Regions from separate parts of the Homo sapiens genome. Here regions 2 and 3 are each linked to region 1. Evidence: fine-mapped expression QTL. A gene starts in region 1. Each other region holds a variant in brackets. All regions are shown on one strand. Distances are from middle to middle.

Region 1 (5,225 bases):
AAAAGCTGTCAGCCATTGATGTACCTTTACCACCCATTGGTGATAATTGTACCACATTTTGGGGAAACATTGTTTTAACTAAAGAGTGTTATTGTTTTGTTTTTAGAGATAGGGTCTGGCTCTGCCGCCCAGGCTGGAGTGCAATGGCATGATTGTAGCTCACTGCAACCTTGAACTCCTGGCTTCAAACAATCCTCCCACCTCAGCCTCCCGAGTAGTGGGGACTACAGGTGCATGCCACCATGCCTAGCTAATTACTTTTAAATTTTTAATAGAGATAGGGTCTTGCTATGTTGCCCAGGCTGATCTCTAGCTCTTGAGCTCAAGTGATCCTCCTGCCTCAGCCTCCAAAATGCTAGGATTACAGGCGTAGGCCACCGTGCCCAGCCAAAGGTGGACAATAAATTGTAGAAAATAATGGATAACCTTCTGAGCAAAGGAAAATGTAAGATACAAGAATTAAATAGCATATTAGAAGAGAGTGAATGACAAATGAAGAGAAAGGTACACTAACACCTCAGTTACCTGCTAGAGAGAGACATTCATCCAGCCTAGCCAGTCATTTCCTTCTCCTTCCTCCCACCACCTCTTTCCTTCTGAACCTCTGGTTCAGATGCAGAGTCCTTAGCCTGTAACTCTGGATCGTTCAACCCATCAGCACATAAGAAACTTGCTCTTCTGAGAATGAAAATAAGCAGCAACACAATTTCCTTAACAACCAAGGATCTTATAGAGGCAAGAACTAGAAGTAAGAAGAAAACACATACTAGGGACAGAAGACATGGACTGGAGGTCTTGGGCCAATTAGGTGACCTTATTCCTATCTCAGAGCCTCTCCAACTCATGGCTTCCTCAACTCATTCATTTAACAAATGTTTTCTAAAGCAATGACCGTGTACCAAGAGTTGCCTCATGCACTCGGGCTGCAGCAGTGAATAAAACAGGAGAGGCCCTGCCCTCAGAGATCTTGTGTCCTAGTGAGAGTGACAGGCAATACATACTAAATAAATAAGCAGTGTAACTTTAGGTGGTGAGCAGTGCTATGAAAGAAATTAAACAAATGATAAAGACAAATTGGGGAGGAGGCATCCTGTGAAGAGGTTGGTCAGGGGAGGGCTCCTGGGGGAAGTAACATTTGAGCTGAGACCTGAATGTACTAGGAAGGGCCAGCCAGGAGATAAGCCAGGGAAAGAAGGTTCCAGACAGAGGGACAAGCAAGCCTTGCGGTGGGACCGCTCTCGGGGCTGGCTGCCAATCCAGGAAAACAGCACTGGGTATGCAGTTGTACTAGGTGAATGGTTTTGACACAGCACACCAAGCAGTCCTACAGTTCCCTGGTGGTGTCTCAAGGGCGGAGGGGCCAAGGACAGAGACTCTGCCAGACTCACGCCACCCTGCCCAAAACACACACAGAGAACGAGAGAGAGAGAGAGAGAGAGAGACGCGTGCACATACTCTGCTTCAACAAAACAGCTCTTCTTTAATCCGAAGTGTATATTGGGTGGCTGCTTAAGATTTTGTTCGAGGACCAGGTTCAGGGATCAGAAATTCTTGATCTCAAAAGTCCTTTTCCACACTTTGTTTGATTCTCTGCAATGTTACACAGCCTCAGCAGTGGTCATAGAAGGGTTCGTTCTATTCTATCCATTGGCAAGGAGTCACAGAGTGCAGCTCCCAGCAATCTGGCTCTCCTCTCACCGTAACATCCCACCCTTTCCCCTCCAGCAGTGGACTGGAACCTCTGATGCCTTCCAAGCCCATCCCAGCTACAGAGGGACACACATCTCTGCCTCTTCCTAGGAGATTAGACTGATTTCCTTTCCTTGCACTGTCCAAATGAGACGCTTTCTGTCCTACACAGTAGAGCTTTGTGAAGACAGCCGAGAAACGGCTCAAGTTTTTTCCAACCTGTAAAATGCAAAGTTGGCCAGCTGCCTCTCTTCCTAGCCTCAAAACTCATATATTTCCTGTCTCCCCGGCAGCTCTAAGAGAAGTCTCTACTGTCCTGGGGTTTGGGGAAAGCACTGCTCAGAATGTGAAATCATTTTCTGGTAATACGGATCTAATTAGCTCTTTGACTGACAAGAGGAAGCAGAGGCCAAAAGGGAGTTAACCAATCTGTTTTTCAGATATTTCAAAACAAGTGAAGAACCAGATAGGGAAACAGAGAGAAAGAGAAAATAAAGAGACAAAGCCTAGGGAGCATTTGGAGAAGGGAGTGAGTAAGAAGAGAACGGGGAGGGAGAATATCAAGTGACTAAAGTATCAATCCTCTGTTCTTCCAGCTTCACCTCTACTCCCGGTCTCCCCTCTGCTCTCTTCCAGAGAGAACTTACTTGAAGGTCGATGTTTTCTCTTGCTGATTCCATCTCGCTGCCCTCAAGTCCCTTCACACGCACCGGGTGCCGGGAACAGACTGCGTGGGCTCCTCCAGGCTCCGCCGTCTGAGTCTCTGCTGCTTTCTTCGGGTGGGAGAGAGCACACAGCTGGCGGGACAGACCTGCCATTCATCCCTCTGATGTGGGATGCCCGTCTTGGCTGCAGCCTCTGGGGGAGGTGTGCACCTGCACACACGTGTGAGTGTATGTGTGTGCACATGTGTGTGCTCCAGGAGGTGGCACATGGCACACTGATAGGTGACCTTTTGAGTTGGTAGTGACAGCATCATTTTCACCAGTGGCTCCAGTGACCTTCCAGTCCCAGCGGAGCCATCTGAGGTCACCCAGCCTGCTTTGAGCTAGTAGCTTTATGACTGGCAAAGAAATCCTGCATGTTTATCAAGCAAATTGAAAAACAGCCTGAGGACAACGCTATCTGACTTCACCGCTGGGTCCAGTCCCCAGTCGCCACGGGTGGAGTGACCTCCAGCACAGTCTCAATACTGAGGCAGAGGGATTTCCGTTGTTCTTTGCTTTGTTCCCTATATCCCTAAAAGTTTTTAAAAAAATTGTAGTTTACCTAATAGGCTCCAAAGCATAGGCTTTGTTCTGCAAAGTGAGTGAACAATACGTTTTTACTGACGGATTGTTTGATTCCTTCAACTCCTCCCTTGATTAGCCATAGAGGGAGCAGGGAGTAGTTGTACCTTCGAAGCTTGTTTATGCAAACAGTGGTATTCTCCCTACTTTTAAAATAAAATTACCAGGAGGGAGTCTTTTTTTAGAAAGTTTTTTTTTTCCTCTCCTGTTTACCTTAGAGCCCAAAACTCTTCTGGCTTGTTCCTGAAGCAAGGTTTAGACACAAGCTTGTGCAGGTGTGGGTGTGGGTATGTCTGTAGACGTGCATGGCAGGGTGTTAACCTGTAATCCAATTCAGGGCTTGAAGAGGTGCGGGCAGGAGGAAGACAGGCAGAGTCAACACGTTTACCCTCACCACATTCAAATGTAAAAAAAAAAAAAGGCGATTTCTTCAGTTCTATGAAATGCCTTTATAAGTTCCCATCCCTCTGGACAGTGGTGCGAGGGAGGGTTGGATGATTGGATGGGGGCCATATTTTAGTCTAATCTATGAAGCATAGTTGGATTTAATCATTTAAATGGTAAACAGTCCACTTTAGACACAATGCTCAGTCTTTCGGATTTGCAGAAGATGGCACCTAGGTGCACAGGAGGGCGGGGTGGGGACGGTTCTTGCATCTATCCTGTGGCCTCTCCATCTCGGCTCCTTTCTGTTCTGGAGCTGCTGGGCCCACGGGCCCGCCCGAATTGCTGACTGCTGAGGAGACACAGGTCCTGCTCCTGGGTCTTCTGCTGGCCTTGGTGGCTGATGTCTGATATTAGGCCAGAGTCACTCATGGGTGATTCTCTTTCTGCCTTTGAGATCCAGTGTTCTCCCTTGCTGTCTGCGCTACCTTGGCTCGTGGCAATGTGGACCATCCTGAGACCTGGCTTTGACTTGTATGTGCCCCCATCCCACTGTATCCGCTCAGTGGCCCACATCTCTAAGATAAGCCCCTCGAAATTTTCCTGTGAGATGCTTGACCAGTGCTCCTGAGCCCCCTTAGGCACATGGGGACTGAGGGCTGCTGACGAAGGGCAGGGGAAAGGCAAGCTCAGCCCCACTTCCAGCAGAGTTTGCTCTGATGTGGCTGCTCCAACTGACACAGGGCAGTCTGCGAGGTGATCTCCTTCCACATTCCTGAATGGAAATGAGACCTGGAACCCACTCTTCTCAGCACTCCTTAAAAAGTCTACCAGTAATATCTATCACCCCACCGCTCATAATAATACCACTATGTATCAAGCACTATTCTAAGCACTTTTTTTTTTTTGAGATGGAGTCTCGCTCTGTTGCACAAGCTGGAGTGCAGTGGCGCCATCTCGGCTCACTGCAACTTCTGCCTCCTGGGTTCAAACGATTCTCCTGCCTCAGCCTCCCGAGTAGCTGAGATTACTTCTTCCCATAGTCCCCTTAATCTAGAATCAGAAAATGTACGCTTTGTCTTCTTTTTTTTTTTTTTTTTCCTGTTTGGCTGGGATGTATCTGATGTAGAACTCTATGACAACAATTCAAAGGGAAATGAAGAAATTTAGAAAATCCTCTCTCTCAAGAAAACCTGGTTGTCAAAAATATTGTCTTGGCTGGGCAGCATGGCTCATACCTGTGATCCCAGCACTTCGGGAGGCCAAAGCCGGAGGATCTCTTGAGCCCAGGAGTTCAAGACCAGCTTGAGCAACATAGTGAGATCCCATCTGTAGAAGAACTTTTTGGCTGGACATGGTGGCTCACACCTGTAATCCCAGCATTGTGGGAAGTAGAGGCAGGAGGTCACTTGAGCCCAGGGGTTCAAGACCAGCCTGGGAAACACAGTGAGATCCTGTCTCTACAAAAAAAAAATTTTTTTTTAATTTAGCTAGATGTGGCAGCTTGCAGCACCTGTAGTCCCAGGTACTTGGGAGGCTGAGGTGGGAGGATTGCTTGAGCCTGGGAGCTGAAGGCTGCAGTGAGCTATGATCATGACACTGTACTCCAGCCTGAGTTGACAAAGCAAGACCATGTCTTAAAAAAAAAAAAAAACTTTCTGGAAAACCTTATTTCGGATGCCAGAAGCAAAATATTAACTATTTATTTCTCTTTGCACTCCTGTTGTGAAAATCCTCATTATCTTTTAAATAATATGGATACATCTGGCTGAATAGAGGGAAACAGGAACAAAAAAATGCAAAAGAGAAAAGTACTCGAATATATTTCAAAAAATTTCCTATTAATAAGCACATTGGTTTGAA
Region 2 (5,225 bases), 76 kb before region 1:
GAGGCGGGTGGATCAGGAGTTCGAGACCAGCCTGGCCAATATGGTGAAACCCCGTCTCTACTAAAAATAAAAGAAAATTAGCTGGGCGTGGTGGCGGGCCCCTGTAGTCCCACCTACTTGGGAGGCTGAGGCAGGAGAATCACTTGAACCGGGGAGGCGGAGGTTGAAGTGGGCTGAGATCGCGCCACTGCGCTCCAGCCTGGGAGACAGAGCGAGACTCCGTCTCAATAAACACATAAATAAAAGCAAATCCTTCTTTTCGCTAAGGCTGCATTTCCACCGCCATGAAATGGAGGCTGTCTCTGCAGTGACCTTCACCTGCCGCCAGCGGTTCTCTCCCCGCCATTCACTGGGCTCTGGGGGCTCTGGGCTTCCCTGCTGCAAGCTCTTAACCCTTAGCGTGAGCAGATGGTAGAACTGCCCATGCCAAGAGGGGTCCATACCAACTTCCGGAATAAACGAGGCCAAAGGGAAAGAGTAGGTTCGCCGGGGACAATCCCACACCAGGAAGCCCCACGATTCAACAGCACCACCCAGGATTTCAGTGTCAGTCCTATCCTCATCAGGCAGGCAACGGTTGGAGGAAGGGAACGGTTGGAGGGAAGGGAAGGGAACGGTTGGAGGGAAGGGAAGGGAACGGTTGGAGGGAAGGGAAGGGAACGGTTGGAGGGAAGGGAGGCTGAGCACAGGCACGGTCACGCTGTGTTGCACCCTGGCCTGCTCTGCGGATGAGTCAGCAGCATCGATTAAGCACCCACTGTGTGCAATGTCCTGAACTCTGTGCTGAGATGATAGCTCTGTTTGCTTTCCAGCCAATCAGCAAATATTTATTGAGCATCTGTCTATTTGGGGCAAGTCAGAGTACAGAGGGCATGGCTTAGAAAGGAATAGCTCAGACGGAGTTTGTGATTAATTACGGGAATGGGTGCCAAGTGAGAGATACAAAGGGTGGAAGAGCAGGAGCGCCTCCATCCAGGGGCGTGGAGGAGGCTCTGTGGATCTCAGGGCCATCTCAGCTGGCTCCAGACAGACAAGAAGACTCCTTCAGTGTTCTTCTGGTAATCACAGAAGCTCTGCGCTGGGAACCAGTACCCTAACAGAGGAGACTGGTAAAAGGTTTCCAGATGAGCATTAATGTAACCCACAGTAATTTGCATGGCCCAGTAAAAAGGAACATATGGGGCCCCTCGTTCAAGTTGATTAAGGGTGAGCCTCAGGAATGAAGTCTAAAACAGGAAAAAAGAAAAAAAGACTCGGAATTTCAAGATGGCAAAAGCAGAGAATTAGACCAAATGCAGGACCCTTCTCAGCACAGGGCCCTCCTGAGCAGATCCTGGGAAGCTGGCCCAGCCTACCTGGAAGAGCAGGAGATAAGAACTTGGGATTTCTGGTGACCAGGAGGATCACAGGCCTTGGGAAAGCCAGTGGCTGCTTCATTATTTCCATCCCGGGTCAAGTTCGGCCTCCAGAAGGTGAGATGGCCCAGCCAGATCTGGCTCTGTCCTTAGCCCTTCCCTCTGGTGGCCTGCCACTCTCAGATGATGGTGTCAACAAGACCAGAGGCTGCTGGCTCTTTTCTCAAAAGCCAGGACCAGGGAACAGCGCAAAATACAAAGGCCAACGCCTTCACTGGAGGAAGGGGTGGGAGCTGCTTCTCCCTGGGCAGCGCACGCCCACTCAAAGGCATCCAACCTCAAAGTGCATAAGCTCCCATCCGCCCACAGGGCATGCGTTTCGGCCCTATGTCCAACCTTCCCGTTTTACAAATCAGGACACAGAACCATCGGGGCAAGGGACCTCTCCAAGGCAACAGAACTGGGCAGTGCTGAAACTGGGACAAAGGCTTCTGTGACTCCCACCAGGGTCCTTTCCCCAACAGCCAGGTGCCTTTCTGTGCCCTCTGACTGGATCGTAGGGATCCAGGTGTGGGGATCCCTCTGCAGTGACCTTCACCTTCGGGGCCCTGCTCCCATGAGAATCACTGTTGCCCACGGGGGACGCCATTCACTGGGCTCTGGTATTGTGGAATGGAGTTGAAGTTTGGATGGAAGAGCTCACTGTCCCCTCTGCAGGCCTTTAACCCTTAGTGTGAGCAGATGGTAGAACCCCTGCCAGTGCCAAGAGGGGTTCATACCAATATCTGGGATAAACAAGGCCAAAGGGAAAGCGTAGGCTCCCCAAGCACAGTTTCTTTTCTTGCTACTAAACACCTGTGGGAGGAGGAGGCTCAGCCCTTCCTGTGGAGCATCTCTGCCAGGGTTCAATAGTATTGGACTAGAGTCCTGATCTGGGTCAACAAAAAGACTAGGGGACCAGGAGGCAAGAGTCAGCTCACCAGGACGGGCTGCAAACGGGGAGGTCTGCATCCAGGGTGAAGCTGCCCCTCCACAGGAAGCAGGCCCAGGAACCCCTGGCAATGCAGACAGGCTGAACCCACAGCACAGCCCCCATGGCGGGAGCAACTCCCGGTCAAGCGGCGGCAGGAAGTGCCCCAAAGGTGTCCACTTTTATTGTGCAGGACAGAATGTCTGCACATGCACCATCTTACAGAATTTGCACAGCTGCCTAAGGACAGAAGCTGAGGCTGCATTGTAAGGACACGCAAAGGGAGCCCCAGAGGACTGAAGTCCCTTTCTTAGGGCTCCTCAGGCTCTCTGACCAGTGAAGTTCTACAGCTGGGAGGGGAGCTGGGCTTTCCTAGTCTTGGCCCGATGCTTGTGGTCTGGCCTCTGACCACTCTCCATCTCACCCTGCCCAGCGCTGAGCCATTCTTCCCTGCCCCGGGGCCTCTGTGCAGGTGGGGGGTGGGGGTGGCCAGGGACCCTGCGCCTCACAGGCAGGTCACCAGGATCTGTAGAGCAGATTGAACACCCCATCCCCCGTGTTTGAAATGCCCTCTGGGCCCTTCCTCGCCGTCCACCCAGGAAGCTCTTCCTTCCATTAAGCTGGTTATTTCCACCACAGGGCCTTGGTGACACCTCTCACCTGATCACTATCCGTTCTCTCACTGGACGGTGAACTCCTTCAGGGTAGGAGCCGTAGTATGAGGCTGGCACTTACTGA[T/C]AACTAGTAGTTGTTTTATCCATGAAGGGAGGGGACGACCTACACAGGCCTACACTTTAGGCATGACACGACAGCCAACATAGTCCCCAGACCAGTGTATCATCCTTCCACTATGTAAACACAGATAGGTTTCCCCTTGAAAAAAATTCCCACTATGTGAAAAGCCAAATCAATTTACAAGACAGCAAAATGGCGGAAGGAAGGGAAGGGACGGAAGGGACGGAAGGGACGGAAGGGACGGAGGGGACGGAAGGGACGGAGGGGACGGAAGGGACAGAAGGGAGGGAAGGGAGGAGGAGACATCTTGCAAATGGACTCCCCGCAGACTCCTTCAAATAGTCCCCTTTGTGAATCTCTTTCTAATCTTAGAATGAGGAAAACCTTTATAACTATGACATCAAATCCGGAAGCCATAAAGGATTAATACATTTGACTGCATAAAATTAAAATTATTTGAATGCAAAATAATAATAGCATATACACTTATAGCGCTCATTTCATGTCAAACCCTGCACAGAACACTTTATATATCTGAAGTCGTGTCATTCTCATAACAATCCCTGGGATAAGTACTGTCCTTATCTAAGGGACTCTGAGGTTAAGTAACTAAACTATGGTCATTCAGCCAGTAAGTTACAGACAAAACCCAGTAGCCTGCCTTCAGAGTGTGTGCTCCAGCCATTTCCTCGACCACCACACACCACACAAAATCAGGAGACAAAGAGAAACGGGGGGAACACTGCTGCACAGAGCACAAAGGACTGATTATCCTGAAGTCTGTGGAGGCCTTAAAAATGAGCCAACAGAAAAACTGAGTACAAACAAGCAAGCCCCTGAAGAAACATCACAAATCTGTGTAATAGATATGATAGCCTACATGATTGGCGAAGACTTAAGAGACTGATAATACTCAGTGTTGGTGAAGACATGGCTAAGCAAGCACTTTCACGTCCTTGGTAGAAATGTAAATTACTACCAAACGTACCAGAATTGTTACAATCATTTTTTTTTGGAGGACAATCTGACAATTATCTATTAAAATTTAAAATAGTCTTACCTAGTAAGTCCACTTCTAGGAGTCTCCCACAGAATAAGTCTCCCACAGAAAATGCTCCCCAAAGCTCAAAAAGACAAGCTATTCCATGCATCATTATTGATAATGTCAAAAACTGGGAATGAGCCAAATTGTAATCAAGGGTGTGTGGGCTAAATAAGCTGGCCTACAACCACACAATTAAATACTACATGTGTCTTTGAAAAGAGAGAGGTGTTCTTGTTCAATCAGTAAAAAACAATGGACAAAATGAAACAAAACAAAAAGAATGAGGTAGATCCCTATGATTAGATACAGAAGATATCTAAAATGTATTTAGTGGGGAGCAAGTCAGTAAGAACATGATATGATTCTATATTGGTAAAAATGAAACAAAGTATTCAGAGGATCTACTTTATATTTCAATGCATTAGAATAAGCACAGGAAACAGATATGGGAGGAATTTCTATCACACTAAAGACTTTCCCTTTCTTTCTAAGTTATGTATTTTCCCAATTGTAGGTTGTTTTCTCATGGGAGTTTGGTTTCAGTAAAAACCAGAGAACCTGCTAGACAAATTCTAGAAGAGCTCTAACACTTCCACTTCTAATTTTTCACACCTAAGACATCATCCTGTTACAATCAGGAAAAATATAATAAAGATGAAATTAAATATGCGATAAATAGCAAAAAACACCTTCCCTGTTTCTTTCTTTCTTCTACAAGCATGTGCTGGGTATGCCTCCTGAGTCCTAGGCACTGATGTCTCAGGCTGGGCATGCAGAGACGAATCCATATGGCTCCTGCTCTCAAGAAACTTCTGGAAGGGGGGAAACAGTTGGTAAATTTAGGGGGGGATTGTCTCCTGGACTCAGTTTTCCTCCGTGGGGTGAGGCAGATGGGCTGCTGTGGCAGCCGTCTCAGAGAGGGCGGGGTCTCCCTGTCAGGACCCAAGGGGTCCTAGGGTACAGGTGGAAGGCAGAGGTGGAGCGGTGTGGGGCAGCGGATCAGGGAGGGGCTGATGAGGCACTTAGGCTTTGTCCTGAGGGCAGCAGGGAGCAGTAGGAAGGTTATCCGCAGCCAGTGGCATCCTTAGAGCAGCGTCTTATTTTTTATTTTCGTTATTTT
Region 3 (5,225 bases), 38 kb before region 1:
GGGAAGGTTTCTTCCCACCCACTCAAAACTTCACTTTTCTCATCATCCAAACTCCGAATCTAAAAGCCTAGTTGTTATTTACCAACTTGCGTCCAAATCCACTCTTGGGCTTAGTTTGCAACCAGCATGTACCCTGGGATGAGTGAGAGGCGACAGGCTAGGAAGGGATCTGGGGTTTATTAGTGACAGACCAGGCTGCTAGGTTTGGCTGAGGTGCCACAATTTGCACCAGGCAAGGGAGGTGAATTCAAATACCAGGATGTTGGGCAATATTTCAAAGAGTGAGGCTGGGCATGGTGGCTCATGCCTGCAATCCCAGTACTCTGGGAGGCTGAGGCAGAAGGATCGCTTGAGCCCAGGAGTTCAAGACCAGACTGGGCAACACAGTGAGACCCTGTCTCTACAAAAAATTTTAAAAGTAGCTAGGTGTGGTTGTGCACACGCCTGTAGTCCCAGCTGCTCAGAAGGCAGAGGTAGGAGGATCGCTTGAGCTCAGGAGGTCAAGGCTGCAGTGAGCTGTGATCACACCACTGCATTCCAGCCTTGGTGACAGAGCGAGACTCTGTCTCAAAAACAAAAACAAAAACAAAAACAAAAAACAAAGAATGAAATTCATTGCTATTACAGCCCTTCCTCTACCCTCACCCTGAACTCTACGTCCCATCCTCTTACTCTACAACCTACTATGCAAATGACTCATTGTTCTCTACAATGTTACCCCACTGGGTTCAATCCTATCTGAGCTTTGTAGGACTCCAAACCTATGTGTAAAGGTATGAGCACTTCAAAGGAAGATTGGCAGGGAAGGCCAATCCTTCTGCTTATGTATTTTATTCTTTGATTTTAAAAATCAATTTATCCAATAGATATTTATGGAGCTCTAACTGGGTTAGGATACTAGTGTATGGGGATACAGAAAAATACAAAGATATACCAGGATACTGGAATACGGGAAAATGTATGAATGAATGAGATCTGGATTCACTTTCAAGGAGCTTGCCGTCTAGTAGAGGAAATGACATACAAATAAGCCACAACACATGGTATAAAAAATATATATGGCCGGGCACAGTGGCTCACACTTGTAATCCCAGCACTTTGGGAAGCAGAGGAGGTAGATGACCTGAGGTCAGCAGTTCAAGACCAGCCTGGCCAACATGGTGAAACCCTGTCTCTACTAAAAATACAAACAATTAGCCAGGCGTGGTGGCATGTGCCTGTAATCTCAGCAACTTGGGAGGCTGAGGCAGGAGAATTGCTTGAACCCAGGAGATGGAGGTTGCAGTGAGCCGAGATTGCGCCACTGCACTCCAACCTGGGAGACAGAGTGAGACTCCATCTCAAAAAAAAAAAAAAAGATGGCTGGGCGCGGTGGCTCACGCCTGTAATCCCAGCACTTTGGGAGGCCGAGGTGGGTGGATCACCTGAGGTAAGGAGTTCGAGACCAGCCTGGCCAACATGGTGAAACCCCGTCTTTACTAAAAATACAAATATCATCCTGGCATGGTCGTGAGCACCTATAATCCCGGCTACTTGGGAGGCTGAGTAATGAGAATTGCTTGAACCTGGGAGGTGGAGGTTGCAGTGATCGTGCCACTGCACTCCTGCCTGGGCAACAAGAGAGAGACTTCATCTCAAAAAAAAAAAAAAAAAAGATATATATATAGATATATAGATATATTTGCCCTAGCTTAGTAACTATCATTAGCAAGTGATATTTAAGCTGGACTCTGAAGGATGGGTAAGAGTTGGAGAGACAAAGATGAGGAAAAGGCATCTAGGTGGTAGGAATGGTATGCCAAGAGCCTTGGAAGCAGCAGGTGGACCTACATGCAGACTAGCAAATAGTTCTATTTGGCAAGAACATAGGGAGAGGGAGTAGACAGAGAGAAGGTCAGAAAGCCAAGGTGAAGTCGAGACCTTGCATTTCAGGCTGAAGAGTAGTTTGGGAATTTCAGGGGAATCACTGAAGGTTTTTGAGTAGAGTTCATGGTGATCATAGCTGTATCCTAGAAAAATTAATTTGGGAGTTCTCTGGAGGCTACGTTGAAGAAAAAGAAAGCATTGGGTAGGGGTATTAGAAGAGGGAACATCTACAGGAGCCTTTTCCAGCAAGCTACTTCTGGTCAACTAAGCCAAAAGGGACCTTGGCCTCCGTTCTCTATGGTCCTCACTGTCTGGACCTCTCATGGACGGTACAGAAAGACAATATAGTTGTTAGGGGCAGAGTCTACTATAAAGTACCTTCTCAGAGCTTGGTCCACCATGTGGAATAATTATATCCAGATTTGTTTTAAAGATTAAATGAGATAGAGTCTATCAAAACACTTATTAGCATAGAGGGAACGGATAAGCAATTTTTAATAAATGGTTGATAGGATAATCATTATCCTATGACTCATCTTGTAGATACGTGTGTCTAAAACTGGAATCACCTCCTTTATGGGTAGGAAGCCACAGCTTCTTGTACCAAGTAGATGATCAATGAATATGAAATAAACAGATATCATGATCGGTGAGGGATTAGGCTGTAAGAGTTTCATTAAATTTAGGAGAATCATTCCCTTTGAATGAGGACTGACATTTTTCTTGCCTGAAGTGTTCCCTGTTCTCAGAAGTACAATCACTATAACTTGGCAGATAGGATGGGATGAGTTTGTCCTTGAGACAGGACATCAAGCCCCAGTTCTGGGTAATGTTTTGACCTCACTGGTCCTGGCAAGCATTAATCTGAAGTCACTAGGCCTCTGGGCCTGTTCCTAATGGGCCTGTGTCCACCCAGTGATGAGGGATTCATAAGAAGCCCTCCTAATATCTGCTGGCTACATTCACGGGAACCTTGGTGTAGGCCTGAAAAAAGAGCTGCGTTAG[T/C]GAGGAGGTAGTGGGAGCTAAGAGTTAGTATACAGCAATATTTAGGCGCTGGACTCCTGGTTGCTTTTCCCAATTCTATTGCCCAGAACTAAGAAACTTTGGACATTCTCTTCTTCTCTCTACCGCAGGGCCTGATCATCAAGGCATCCCTGAATACTGACTGCCTCCTACCAGTGCCTGCTACCTACAAAGGCATTGATGCACTAAGTGCCACAGGGCCCTCCAGGACTTAAAAGAGTTTCACTCTAGCTGAACATAAAAGGTGAAACACAGAAGAAATATGGCACTGTAGTTAAGGGTATAAACAATGGAGTCAGGGTGCCTGGTTCAAATCCTGGCTTTCTCACTAGCTGACACGAGGCAGTCAACCTTTCTGCACCTTAGTTTCCTTATCTCTAAAGTAGGAATAATAATAATAATAGTATCTACCAAATGGGGTACTATTAAGAGTTAAATAAAATAACTTAGCTTGGTGCTGTAGCTTGCGCCTATAATCCCAGCACTTTGAGAGGTTGAGGCGGGAGGATTGCTTGAGCCCAGGAGTTCAAGACCAGCCCGGGCAGCATAGTGAGATCCTGTCTCTACAAAAATTAAAAGAGTACGCAGGTGTGGTAAGACATGCCTGCAGTTACAGCTACTCAAAAGGCTGAGACGGAAAGGTTGTCTGAGCCTAGGAGTTCGAGGTTGCAGTGAGCTATGATTGTACCACTGAACACCGGCCTGGGTGACAGAGCCAGACCCCATCTCAAAAAAAAATTCAATAGAATAATTTGTGTAAAGTGCTAAATACAGTAATGGCCCATAGCAAGCACCTAATAACTGTTAACTATTATTTTTGAATTAAATCATAGCATCCAACCTGAAAAGCAATATATGGCAATAAGGAATTTTCTAGGCCATGCCTTTAGAATTTTTATCATCCTTTTAGAATTGAAGCTTCTTGTTAGAAGATTCTGTCCTGTATTTTCATGGATGCCCCAACAGCCACCCTCCCTGCCTTGCAATCAAACAGGTGCTCAAATATTTTTTGAGAATATAATTAAGTACATTTCTACTTTCTAATTTCTAAATGAATGAAATAGAGAACTAGGAAACTTAGGACAGTAAGACTGATGTCAGCTGGGCAATCAGAGAAGGCTTCATGGAGGAGGTGAGACTGACGTAGCCCTTGACAAGTTCGATAGGATTTAGATGGATAAAGTGAAGCAAGGAAAATTCTAATTATTGGAGCCTCGAATGGGTTGGGTGTTCATGAGAGGCAGGGGCAGACTTCGTGGGTACAGCTGCAGCATACTGCACACACATTAAGGGTGGCACCTCTGTGCCCAGACCTGGGCTTAAGTGGAACCAGACTCGCCTGGGACAGACTTTGGGCGCAGTGACAGGAGCCCATCAGCTGCTCAAGAGACCCCTGCCAAAATCTCAACTGGAGCTGGGCACAGTGGCGCATGCCTGTAATCCCTGGGCACAGTGGTGCATGCCTGTAATCCCAGCTACTTGCGTGCCTGAGGCAGGAGAACCCGGGAAGTGGAGGTTGCAGTGAGCTGAAATTGGGCCACTGCACTCCAGCCTGAGCGATAGAGCGAGACTCCGTCTCAAAAAGAAAAAAAAAGTCTCAATCAGCTAGGCCAAGTCCTTCCTGTCCTGTCCCTGTCCCTGCCGCATCCTCCCCGCCCTGCCCCCGGCTCCTCTTTCACACCCTGTGCCAGACAGAAGGCCTGGGAGTGAAAAGACTGGCCATGGGGACAGAGAGCTGGATCCAAAGGTCAAGGCTGAGTTTGCCAGAGCCTGCAGGATCCCTGCACCGCTTTACTGGATCCCCAGGTTGAGCTGAGATGCTGCTCTGGGTGGAGAAGGGGCCATGAGCCTCTGGCAGGCCTCTGTGTCACACCTTTCCACCAGGGAAAACTGGGTGTGGATGTTTCCCCTTCGTATGTACTCTGAGATCTCTATGAGGAGTCTTCCTAGAGGGGAAGGGGGAAGCCTCCTCATAGAGATCTCAGAGTACATAGGAAGGAGCCAGGTCTTTCCGTTCTTCTGCGTCTCCTCACAGCGTCACCTACAAGGGTCTGGCACACAGTGGACACTCTTCCTGGCTTTTCTGGTACAGAGTGACCAACATAACAGTTAATAGCATTTCCTCATTTTACAGACAGGGAAAGCAAAAAACATAAGCATGGTAATGCATATATAATACGTGTCTATGGCAGAGGCATTCGAACCAGAATGACTCCATCTTGAATAGGGGCTGGTAAAATGAGGCTGAGACCTGCTAGGTGGCATTCCCAGGAGGTTAGGCATTCTTAGTCACAGGATGAGATAGGAGGTCAGCACAAGACACAGGTCACAAAGGC

What was found.
Region 2: its variant is fine-mapped to the expression of NINJ2 in whole blood (INTERVAL, PIP 0.96).
Region 3: its variant is fine-mapped to the expression of NINJ2 in whole blood (TOPMed, PIP 0.94).

The regions. Positions count from the first base shown.
Region 1 is chr12:660,992-666,216 of GRCh38, forward strand. It overlaps NINJ2 (ninjurin 2), which reads right to left and starts at 2,454. Exons shown (of 4, transcript NM_016533.6): 1 at 2,337-2,454. The coding sequence starts at 2,369.
Region 2 is chr12:584,893-590,117 of GRCh38, forward strand. The region is part of intron 1 of NINJ2 (ninjurin 2); the gene reads right to left. It overlaps LOC105369595 (a long non-coding RNA gene), which reads right to left and starts at 1,594. Exons shown (of 2, transcript NR_134624.1): 1 at 1,356-1,594; 2 at 806-1,106. It also overlaps the pseudogene RNU7-103P. The variant T/C (reference allele first, on the strand shown) is at 3,064.
Region 3 is chr12:623,467-628,691 of GRCh38, forward strand. All of the region lies in intron 1 of NINJ2 (ninjurin 2), which reads right to left. Among named protein-coding and RNA genes, the nearest start is that of NINJ2-AS1, 4.8 kb to the right of the region's middle. RefSeq lists enhancers at 1-247, 248-991. The variant T/C (reference allele first, on the strand shown) is at 2,872.